2 separate regions of the Homo sapiens genome follow, and region 2 is linked to region 1. Evidence: fine-mapped expression QTL. A gene starts in region 1. The other region holds a variant in brackets. All regions are shown on one strand. Distances are between the middles of the regions.

Region 1 (5,366 bases):
CCCGGCAGCTTTTTTTTTTTTTTTTTTTTTTTTTTTGAGAGAGAGTTTCCCTCTGTCGCCCAGGCTAGAGTGCAATGGCGCAATCTCGGCTCACTGCAAGCTCTGCCTCCCGGGTTCAGGCCATTCTCCTGCTTCAGCCTCCTGAGCAGCTGGGACTACAGACGCCCGTCACTGCGCCCGGCTAATTTTTTGTGTTTTTAGTAGAGACGGGGTTTCACCGTGTTAGCCAGGATGGTCTCGATTTCCTGACCTCGTGATCCGCCCGCCTCGGCCTCCCAAAGTGCTGGGATTACAGGCGTGAGCCACCGCGTCCGGCCAGCTTTTTTTTTTTAATTGCAAGCATATTTCTTTGAATGACTCCAGTAAAATTAAGCATCAAGTAAACAAGTGGAAAGTGACCTACACTTTTAACTTGTCTCACTAGTGCCTAAATGTAGTAAAGGCTGCTTCAGTTTTGTATGTAGTTGGGTTTTTTGGAGTCCGAAGGTATCCATCTGCAGAAATTGAGGCCCAAATTGAATTTGGATTCAAGTGGATTCTAAATACTTTGCTTATCTTGAAGAGAGAAGCTTCATAAGGAATAAACAAGTTGAATAGAGAAAACACTGATTGATAATAGGCATTTTCATGGTCTTTTTAATGTTTTCTGTTGTTAAACATTTCAAGATTTATTGATTTTTTTTTTCACTTTCCCCATCACACTCACAGGCACGCTCACACTTTTTATTTGCCGTAATGAACCGTCTAGCCCCTGTGGAGATCTCCTATGAGAACATGTGTTTTCTGATAACTCACAACCCTACCAATGCTACTCTCAACAAGTTCACAGAGGAACTTAAGAAGTATGGAGTGACGACTTCGGTTTGAGTTTGTGATGCTACATATGATAAAGCTCCAGTTGAAAAAGAAGGAATCCACGTTCTAGATTGGCCATTTGATGATGGAGCTCCATCCCCTAATCAGATAGTAGATGATTGGTTAAACCTGTTAAACACCAAATTTCGTGAAGAGCCAGGTTGCTGTGTTGCAGTGCATTGCGTTGTGGAATTGGGAAGGGCACCTGTGCTGGTTGCACTTGCTTTGATTGAATGTGGAATGAAGTACGTAGATGCAGTTCAGTTTATAAGACAAAAAAGAAGGGGAGTGTTAAATTCCAAACAGCTGCTTTACTTAAGATGCGATTACGCTTCAGAGATACCAATGGGCATTGCTGTGTTCAGCAGAAAGAAATGTAAATGAAGGCTGACTTGATTGTGGCATTTAGAGGGAACTCCTGGTACCTGGAAATGTGAATCTGGACTCTTACCTGTGTCATCAAAGTAGTGATGGATTCAATACTCCTCAACCACTCTCCTAATGATCAGAACAAAAGCAAACAAGAAATCTCTCTATAAAATGAATAAAATGTTTAAGAAAAAAAAAGAGTTCGAGACCAGCCTGGACAACATGGTGAAATCCCATCCCTACAAAGGTTAACTGGGCTTGGTGGCACGTGCCTGTAATCCCAGCTACTCAGGAGACTGAGACAGGAGAATGGCTTGAACCTGGGTGGCTGAGGTTCCCGTGAGCTGAGATTAAAAAAAAAAATCATACTTCCCTAGTATCTAAAGTTGATATCTGATTCCAGGCCTCTTTCAACTTTTTTTGTTTGTTTGTTTGTTTTTTTGATATGGAGTCTCGCTCTGTCATCCAGGCTGGAATGCAAATGGCACGATCTTGGCTCACTGCAACTTCCACCTCCAGCGTTCAAGCGATTCTCCTGCCTCAGCTTCCCAAGTAGCTGGGACTACAGGCGTGTGCCACCAAGCCTGGCTAACTTTTTTTCTTTTTTTTTTTTTTGAGAGGGAGTCTTGCTCTGTCCCCCAGGCTGGAGTGCAGTGGTGTGATCTTGGCTCACTGCAACCTCCGCCTCTCCGGTTCACGCCATTCTCCTGCCTTAGCCTCCCGAGTAGCTGGGAGTACAGGCGCTCGCCAACACGCCCGGCTAATTTTTTGTATTTTTAGTAGAGATGGAGTTTCACCGTGTTAGCCAGGAGGGTCTTGATCTCCTGACCTCGTATCCGCCCGTCTTGGCCTCCCAAAGTGCTGGGATTACAGGCGTGAGCCACCGCGCCCAGCACCTGGCTAACTTTTGTATTTTTAGTACAGACGGGGTTTCACTGTATGTTGGCCAGGCTGGTCTCAAACCCCTGACTTGAGGTGATCTGCAAGCCTCAGCCTCCCAGAGTGCTGGGATTACAGGCGTAAGCCACCGCTCCTGGCCTAAGGTTGGCTATTTTTATGGTTATTTCTTGATTATATGATAAACAAGGGGTGGGTTAGTAATGAATTTTTCAGAAAAGGGGTGGGGATCCCCCCCAACTGAAGGTTCCTCCACTGTTTAGACCATATAGGGTAACTTCTGGACGTTGCCATGGCATTTGTAAACTGCCTGGCGCTGCTAGGAGTGTCTTTAGCATACTAATGCATTATAATTAGCGTATAATGAGCAGTGAGGACGATCAGAGGTCACCTTCCTGTCTTGGTTTTGGCAGGTTTTGACCAGTTTCTTTGCTGCATTCTGTTTTATCAGCGGGGTCTTGTGACCTTTTATCTTGTGCTGACCTCCTGTCTCATCCTGTGACGAAGGCCTAACCTCCTGGGAATTCAGCCCAGCAGGTCTCTGCCTCATTTTACCCAGCCCCTGTTCAAGATGGAGTCGCTCTGGTTGGAAACTTCTGACAAAATGACAGCTCCTGTTATGTTGCTGCTGCTGCCGCCAATGGACAGCCTTTAACGTGCCCGCCAGCCCTGCTCCACCGCCGGCCTGGGCTCACATGGCCCCATCCCTCCTCGAACCTCCTAGCCTGTTAGTTACTCAAATCTGCAAGCTCTCTGCCTTCTCAGGGCCTTCAATAAATGCATTTCTTCTGTCTGGAAGGCTCTTCCTTTCCCTCTTCTAGCCAATTCCTATTCATCCCTGAGTTTCAGATTAAAAGTCACTTCCTTTGGAAACCTTACTTCGCTACTTCGCTACTTACTGCACTACTTCGCAGCATCACAACTATGATGGAAATCCTTACTTACGTTAAATATCTGGTTTCTAGGTCACCTCCCTGACGGGGACGGTAGGGACCGTCTTCTCGTTCATCAGTAGGGAAGTAGCTATGGCAGTGCCTGATACAAAATAAACTCCAAATGTGTATTTATTAGATGGTTGGATGGAAGTTATTTGCGTGTGAAAGCGCGTTTTACCCGAAGGCGCTCTGTGAGGGCCAGCGGGTCCCCTTCGGCCCTGGAGCCGGGGTCACACGCTCCCCACCGCGTGCGGTCACGAGACGCCCCCAAGGGAGTATCCTGGTACCCGGAAGCCGCGACTCCTGGCCCTGAGCCCGGGCTTAGCCTTCGGGTCCACGTGGCCGGAGGCCGGCAGCTGATTGGACGCGGGCCGCCCCACCCCCTGGCCGTCGCGGGACCCGCAGGACTGAGACCATGGAGGCGGTGGCGGTGGCCGCGGCGGTGGGGGTCCTTCTCCTGGCCGGGGCCGGGGGCGCGGCAGGCGACGAGGCCCGGGAGGCGGCGGCCGTGCGGGCGCTCGTGGCCCGGCTGCTGGGGCCAGGCCCCGCGGCCGACTTCTCCGTGTCGGTGGAGCGCGCTCTGGCTGCCAAGCCGGGCTTGGACACCTACAGCCTGGGCGGCGGCGGCGCGGCGCGCGTGCGGGTGCGCGGCTCCACGGGCGTGGCGGCCGCCGCGGGGCTGCACCGCTACCTGCGCGACTTCTGTGGCTGCCACGTGGCCTGGTCCGGCTCTCAGCTGCGCCTGCCGCGGCCACTGCCAGCCGTGCCGGGGGAGCTGACCGAGGCCACGCCCAACAGGTACCGCCCCGAAGCTTCCCCGCGTCCGCCCGAGGCGCTTACCCCCTCCCGGAGCCGCTGCCACCCAAATCGGGAGGCTGAGCGGGGAGCGCTGGCCGGAAGGCCCAGCTGCGCCGCCTCCAGCAGCTGTGTGGCCTTGAGCCAGCCACTCTGCCTTTCAGAGCCTCGGCTGGCCCACCTGAAAAACGGAAAGAAGACGCCTACCGTGCAGTGTTATTGTGAGGATTTGCACGATGATGGGCATAGAATTTGTGGTGCACAATTGGTGATGAGTGAATTTTCTTGCCTTCCTCCCCCACCTTCTCTTTGAACCTGCGGACTGAGGAAGGACGCCTCCATCCCCCACCCTACAGGCCTGTGTTCCAGCGCCTGCCACACTATGGAGTGATGTGTTCACACAGCTGTCCTCCCCTGCCCATCTGTTAGACTGTGGGGGCAGGGATTCCCCGTTCCAGGAAAACACCGTGCAGAGGAGGGGCTCTGGCAGTGTGGCATGAAAGTGGAATATGCCACCCAAATACCCGCCAGGCTAGAGGGCCCTGGGAGAGTGCAGGGGACGAGTGCCTCAGAAGCCCAGCCCCGGTACCTGGTCTCAGCTCCACCTGGGGTGGGTCCCAGTGTGCAGCAGAAGGGCCGAGTTTGGAGCCCCTCCCCTCTCCTCTAGGTGGGGGATGGGGGATTTGTTCCAGGGCCGTGGACCCTCCAGGGTGGGATGCGCCCCTGCTCATGACACTGCCCGCAGGTACCGCTATTACCAGAATGTGTGCACGCAAAGCTACTCTTTCGTGTGGTGGGACTGGGCCCGCTGGGAGCGAGAGATAGACTGGATGGCGCTGAATGGCATCAACCTGGCACTGGCCTGGAGCGGCCAGGAGGCCATCTGGCAGCGGGTGCGTGCCCACTGTCCCTTCCCCACCCTCCTCTATGGCGGGAGCCACCGTAGGTGTTTTCACCCGCCCCCCAGCATGGGCGCAGTGTCTCTCTCTAGAAGTGCTTTCAGCGTGCACAGTGGCTTGGGCCTCCTAAAAACTGAGGCTTCCGGCCGGGCGCGGTGGCTCACGCCTGTCATCCCAGCACTTCGGGAGGCCTAGGCGGGCGGATCAGGAGTTCAGGAGATCGAGACCATCCTGGCCAACATTGTGAAACCCCGTCTCTACTAAAATACAAAGAAATAGCAACCTGGGCAACAGAGCGAGACTCTGTCTAAAAAAAAAAAAAAAAAAAACTGAGGCTTCCAGTTTGAGGAGTGGGGCTCCTTCCCCCATCTCCCCTATGCAGCCAATCACCTGGTCCCTTGGATCCAACTCATGGGCAGCTCTAGATCTGCCTCCCTGGAAGCTTCTGTGCTGCAATGGCTGCTCCAGGCTCTGCTTAAGCTCTTCACACAGTTGCCCTGCCCTTCCATCTGGCACTCTTGCTCCATGAAGCCTTCTAAGGCCTTCCTGTTGGGGGAAAGCCCCTTTGTGCCCCATCTCCTCACCCATGCGACAAAGGCAACACAGTGAACTCACC
Region 2 (5,366 bases), 320 kb before region 1:
GAAGAAACATAAGATGAAACGTAAGATATAAGTTGTTCCCCTCAAAGACCAGGGAAAAATTCATTCTTCCTCTTCTTCCACCCTCACCATATTCCTGAAGTGGGCACTAAGGGTGCCTGTGGCTTGGTGGTACTCCATGACGCAGCAGTTGTTCAAGATCTCGCCACTGTAATCACTGCAAATCAGAGAGAGACCAGCTCCAAACCCATGCCAGGGTCTCAGGACATGCGGAGTAAATAATATAATTTGGGGTAGCAGGAAATAGAGAAGTTTGCTAAAAATGTACGTCATTTAGAGGAAATGTTAGCTACATAACACATACATGTAATCTTCTCGGACGTATCTCTACAAAATGAAACAAGATCAAACTATCTTCACAGAAAACAGTTCCTAAGAGAACTTTTTTTTTTTTTTTTGTGACGGAGTTTTGCTCTTGTTGCCCAGGCTGGAGTGCAGTGGCGTGATCTCAGCTCACTGCAATCTCAGCTCACTGCAATCTCTGCCTCCCAGGTTCAAGGGATTCTCCTGCCTCAGGCTCTCTAGTGGCTGGGATTACAGGTGCCTGCCACCACGCCCGGCTAATTTTTTGTATTTTTAGTAGAGACAGGGTTTCACCATGTTGGCCAGGCTGGTCTTGAACTCCTGACCTCAGGTGATCTGCCCACCTCGGCCTCTTAAAGTGCTTGGATTACAGGTGTGAGCCACCACACCAGGCCCAAGAACTTCCTTATATTCCTTTGCTGATGCCCAGAAGAGGCCAGAAGGGCAAACAGGGATCTGACACAGGAGGCAGAATTCTTTTTTTCCTGTTGCCAGGACATGAGACAAGTAGCAGGGAATGAGAGGAAGCTGCACAATTACTTGCGGGTGTTCTCGTTCTTGAGCAGAGACTTGGCCTGCTGCTCACTGATGATGGTGGCCTTCACCTGGGGGGGGTTCATGTGCACGTTCAGCTTCCCGCCCACCAGCAGGCGCACAGTGGCTGCAAACTTGGTCTGGGTCTTCAGGACCTGAGGAGGCTGCTTCTCAATGATGAACGTGCTGCAGGGGACACAGGGACAGATGCATGATGAGGGGCTGGTGCAGGGGAAAGGGCTCTCAGTCCCTCTGTGGTGGGGGTGGGGCTGCCTCCCGAGGGGCTCAGGAGGTGAAGAGCTCGGGCACAGCCTCTGTTCCTGGGGAAGCCGTGAGAGTCCAGGGAGAGGATGGAGAGGGGAGTGAGATAACACAGAAGCTGGCATGGGCTGCAGCCCAAGGGCATCTCTTGCAGTGTCCACAGGAGAAACTGGGCAAGGGCCACAGCAACTGGAGATGGAGTTGGGAGGGATGAGAGGCAGGAAGTGGATCTGCTGGTCTGGAAGGCACCTGCGGCTCCCCCCACGCAGGCAGGAGCTGCCCCAAGCTCCTGGGCATGGCAAACAGGCAGCAGTCACCTGGTCACCAGGGCTGAGATAATGTCCGTGATGGTGGCGTTGACCTCGGCCAGCATCTCCTCCACTGGGCCGGGGATGGGCAGCTGCTGGCAGAGGTGCTCAGCCCTGCGGATCTGCTGCCGGTTCTGCCAGATGATCTCGGCCAACTTCTCACACCTGCACGAGAGCCCCAAGGCCAACAGGAGGACAATGGCTCCTCCGCACAGACGCCAGGCCCCAAGACACAGCTCCCGTTCCCCCAGGAAGGCTCTGTGCTTTCGCCACACTTCCCACCCATGGGAAGAGCAGAGCTCCCTGCCTCCCAGAATTAGAGACGTACACAGGAGGGGCGACCCTGACTAGGCCCAAACAGCCCAAGCATCACCCCACACACCCGAACCCTGTCCCATCTCCAGGACAGCAGCCCCCTTCCTGGGGGAGGTGCACAGGATGGGGGCCAAAGTCTGATTGAGGAACCAGGCTCCCTGGAGAAACAAGAGCTGTCCCAGGATGGAGGGGGCCTGCTGCAGGAGCCAGCACAGGACGCAGAAGCAGCCGGGATCCCCACCAGCCCCTCCTGCCCTGCCCGCTGGCCGCCCCACACCATTACCAGGACTGTAGCACGTCCAGGCTGCCCTCGGGGGGCCCGCCGTTCCCGGCCAGCTGCTGCCGCCGCTTCCACTGGATCAGCTCGTCATCCAGGATGATGGTCTGCTGCTTCCGCAGCAGCTGCAGGGTCTTCTGGTGCTTCTCGGCCAGCTCCTGAGGGAAGGGAGGAGAGCAGCCCCTTCTGGGCTCCCAGAGAACACCGCAGGGCCTCGCTGGGAAATGGCAGGGCAGGGCCCAGGCCGTTCCCTCTCCCCAAGCTGCTCTGCCTCGCAAGGCCCCCAGGAAAAAAGGCCTCCTGCCCTCCCAGGTTCTGCTCTCATGCTGGTCCCAGCCCTCCCTCGGGTCCCCAGAGACTGACTTCATGGCACCCACGCCCAGGAGAGGCCCAGGACCCCACTCACCACGCGGTACTGCTGCAGTGTCTGTGCCTCACGCTGCAACCAGGCCTCCAGAGACACCTGCTTCTGCTGGAGGGCCGTCTCCCGGCTCAGACGCTCCTGGGGGCTCAGCTGGGCCAGCGGGCCAAACTGAGCTAGAGGAGGGGAGAGGAAACCATGACCATCACCTCCCAGTGTCCAACAGGAGGCCCAGAGAAGCCCACTCACCCGTTCTGGAGCGAGACCCTCCTGGGCTCAGATACTGCATTAAGGGCAAGTCGGGGTTCCTGACAGCCAGGGGGGCCAAGATGAATGGGTGCCCCAGGAGGCGCCTCTGGGCCCTGCTCGCCAGCCTCCTGACTCTGAGCCGTCCCCTCTGGGGGCACACGGGTGCTGGGGCAGCTGGGGAGGAGGCCTGCCTGCCTCCTGCCCGCCTGCCTCACAGGGCTGCCAGCCCTCTTCTCGCGGCCCAGCATGGGTCCAGGCTGTCTGGGGTGTAAGTGTGCCCATGCCCTTGACTGCAGGTGAACCTGGGCAAATCGCTTTCCTTTCCTGTGCCTTGGCTTCCCCACGTGTAAAACGGGAGATTCTCGGCACCTGCCTCAGTGGGGTGCATTAAGATTAAATACATGAGGACATGGAAGATGCCAGAAAGCTGCCTGACATGGGTGAGCTCTGTGTGAGGTTCGTGCTTCTTGGTTAACGGGGAACAGGACAGAGAGAAGAGGTGACAGAGACAAGCAGCTGCTCGGCCCCATCCCTCCCGCAGCAAGGCCTCTTCAGGGAAACCCAGCCCCGGCGGCTCTGTCTAGTCCCTGAGCACAGCA[A/G]TCCCTCCTCAGGGGAGGATGAGATTCTTGAGAGGCTGGAAGGGGCCCAGCATGTTTGTCCAGGTGAGCTCACTGTGAACCCAGCCAACCAACCAGGGAACACGGACAGACAGACAGACCGCAGAGGGAGAGCATGTCCAGGGCCACTGGGGATGCAGAGCCACCAAGATTCTCTCAGGAAAGGGAGGCCGAAGGGAGGCGGCTTCCCTCCACACCATCTGTGAGGAGTCTCATTGATGGCGGGACAGGGAGTAAGTTAGGCCTCATTACCTTTTAAAAATTATTATGAAATAGGTAAGACACAGGGAACGTGGAACACAGGAGCACCTGTGTATCAATAACCCAGGCTAAGAAAGTAAACATGTCCACAGTTACAACCACCACCGCAGGCCCACCCCACCCTCCCAGCGACAGCCCGTCTCCACCACACTGGGACTATTAATCCCTTCCCATCACCTTCTCAACAGCCCAGAGTCCTTGCTTGAGCTGAGTCAGAAGATGCGCGCACCAGCATGTCTTGGTCGAGCTCCTGGCTGGCCCCTGAGGGCCACGTCACTCTGACCCCAGCCCTGACCCATGGGATGCACAAGCTGGGACAGACAAAAGCAACTCTATGTAGCCAGGAACAGCCCAGAGCTAGAACTCAGAAATATGGCTCCAATCTCACTGCAGGTATCGAGCAGGAAGAGGATCATCCAGGGACGGACAGATCCAAGGTATCTGCACGGCTACCTCAGGAATCCTGCCCAGCCACAGGGAGGGTGGTGGTGATCCCAACACCTGGGCCCAGCCTTCCTATGCAAGGGACCCACTTAGGGCTCTCCTGGAAATTTGCAGAAGCTTTTGGGAAGGAGGCCAGGGAGACGGGAAGCAATTTCCCTACTCCACTGGAGGCAGCTGAGCCTTCCCTGGCAAAAGCAGATCAATAGTCTGTGTTTCTGCTGAGTGAACTTGACAAATGGGACTGAGAAGACACTGCGTGATAGATCCAAACCCAACCTGAATCCAAACCTAATCCGCCACCATGCACAGGAAACAGAAAAGCCAGGCACGGGATCAGAAATACTGTTGACAGTCTAAGGACTTGGGTAGGAATAGCCATCCCAAATCTTCCGTTTCCATTCTCTGAAGGAGCTGCCCTTCTTCTAGGGCCAGTCTAGGATGGATTCAGATAAAAAAGGAAGACAGGCTAGAATCATCCTGTCAACCTTTACTCAATAACTGTTATGTTTCAGGCATTGTGCTGGCCTCAGGGTACAGAGATAAAAGATATAGTCCCTTCTCAAAGATTTATATTCCAGTGGAGAAGATAAAGAGTAAATAAGTAGTATCACTATAGACATAAAATGGAACCTACATACATGGAATTAGAGGAGCATGTGCTGTGTGTGTGTGTGTGTGCTGTGTGTCTATGTGTGTGTGGTGTGTATGTGTGGTGTGTGTGTGTGCTATGTGTGGTGTGTGTGTGCTGTGTGTGGTGTGGTGTGTGTGTGCTGTGTGTGGTGTGGTGTGTGTGGTGTGGTGTGTGTGTGCTGTGTGTCTGTGTGTGTGCTGTGTGTGGTGTGTGTGTGCTGTGTGTGTGCACTGTGTGTCTCTGTGTGCTGTGGGGGGTGTGTGTGCTGTGTGTGTGTGTGCTGTGTGTGTGATGTGTGTGGTGTGTGTGTGTGCTGTGTTGTCTGTGTGTGCTGTGTGTGTGTGTGTTTGGAGGGGCTGGGTGGTTGAGCCAAGGCTTCTCTGAGACTGAGCTGGGCATGGAAGCAGAGAGGAAACTATTAAAGCTCAAACTGCCAAACTGCTACAGGGTCAAAAGGGGGCGCTGGTGGGGCTCCACAGCCTCACCACAGACTGAAGCTCTCTGTGCCCCAACTACTAAGCAGGATTTATACCAGGCTAGGGAAGCTCTGTCCATAAGGGCTACCTAAGGGGCGTTAAGTGTACTCTGTTTCAGGAAGACCTCTGTGAATAACTGCATAGAACATTAGAAATCATATACAGGTCCTTAGTACTTACACGTACCTGCTTAGAAAGGTTTCTTTTCCCCCTTAGAGATAGGGTCTTACTATGTTGCCTAAGCTAGTCTGAAACTACTGGCCTCAAGTGATCCTCCTGCCCTGGCCTCCCAAAGCACCAGGATTACAGGT

What was found. PIP is the estimated chance that this variant, and not a neighbour inherited with it, causes the effect.
Region 2: its variant is fine-mapped to the expression of NAGLU in fibroblasts (GTEx, PIP 0.98).

Annotation. Positions count from the first base shown.
Region 1 is chr17:42,532,802-42,538,167 of GRCh38, forward strand. It overlaps NAGLU (N-acetyl-alpha-glucosaminidase), which reads left to right and starts at 3,440. Exons shown (of 6, transcript NM_000263.4): 1 at 3,440-3,854; 2 at 4,597-4,744. The coding sequence starts at 3,472. It also overlaps the pseudogene PTP4A2P1. RefSeq lists enhancers at 3,153-3,232, 3,746-4,483 and silencers at 3,343-3,752, 3,873-3,942.
Region 2 is chr17:42,217,290-42,222,655 of GRCh38, forward strand. It overlaps STAT5B (signal transducer and activator of transcription 5B), which reads right to left. Exons shown (of 19, transcript NM_012448.4): 6 at 2,423-2,553; 7 at 2,023-2,174; 8 at 1,434-1,589; 9 at 862-1,041; 10 at 88-175. Among named protein-coding and RNA genes, the nearest start is that of GHDC, 25 kb to the left of the region's middle. The variant A/G (reference allele first, on the strand shown) is at 3,226.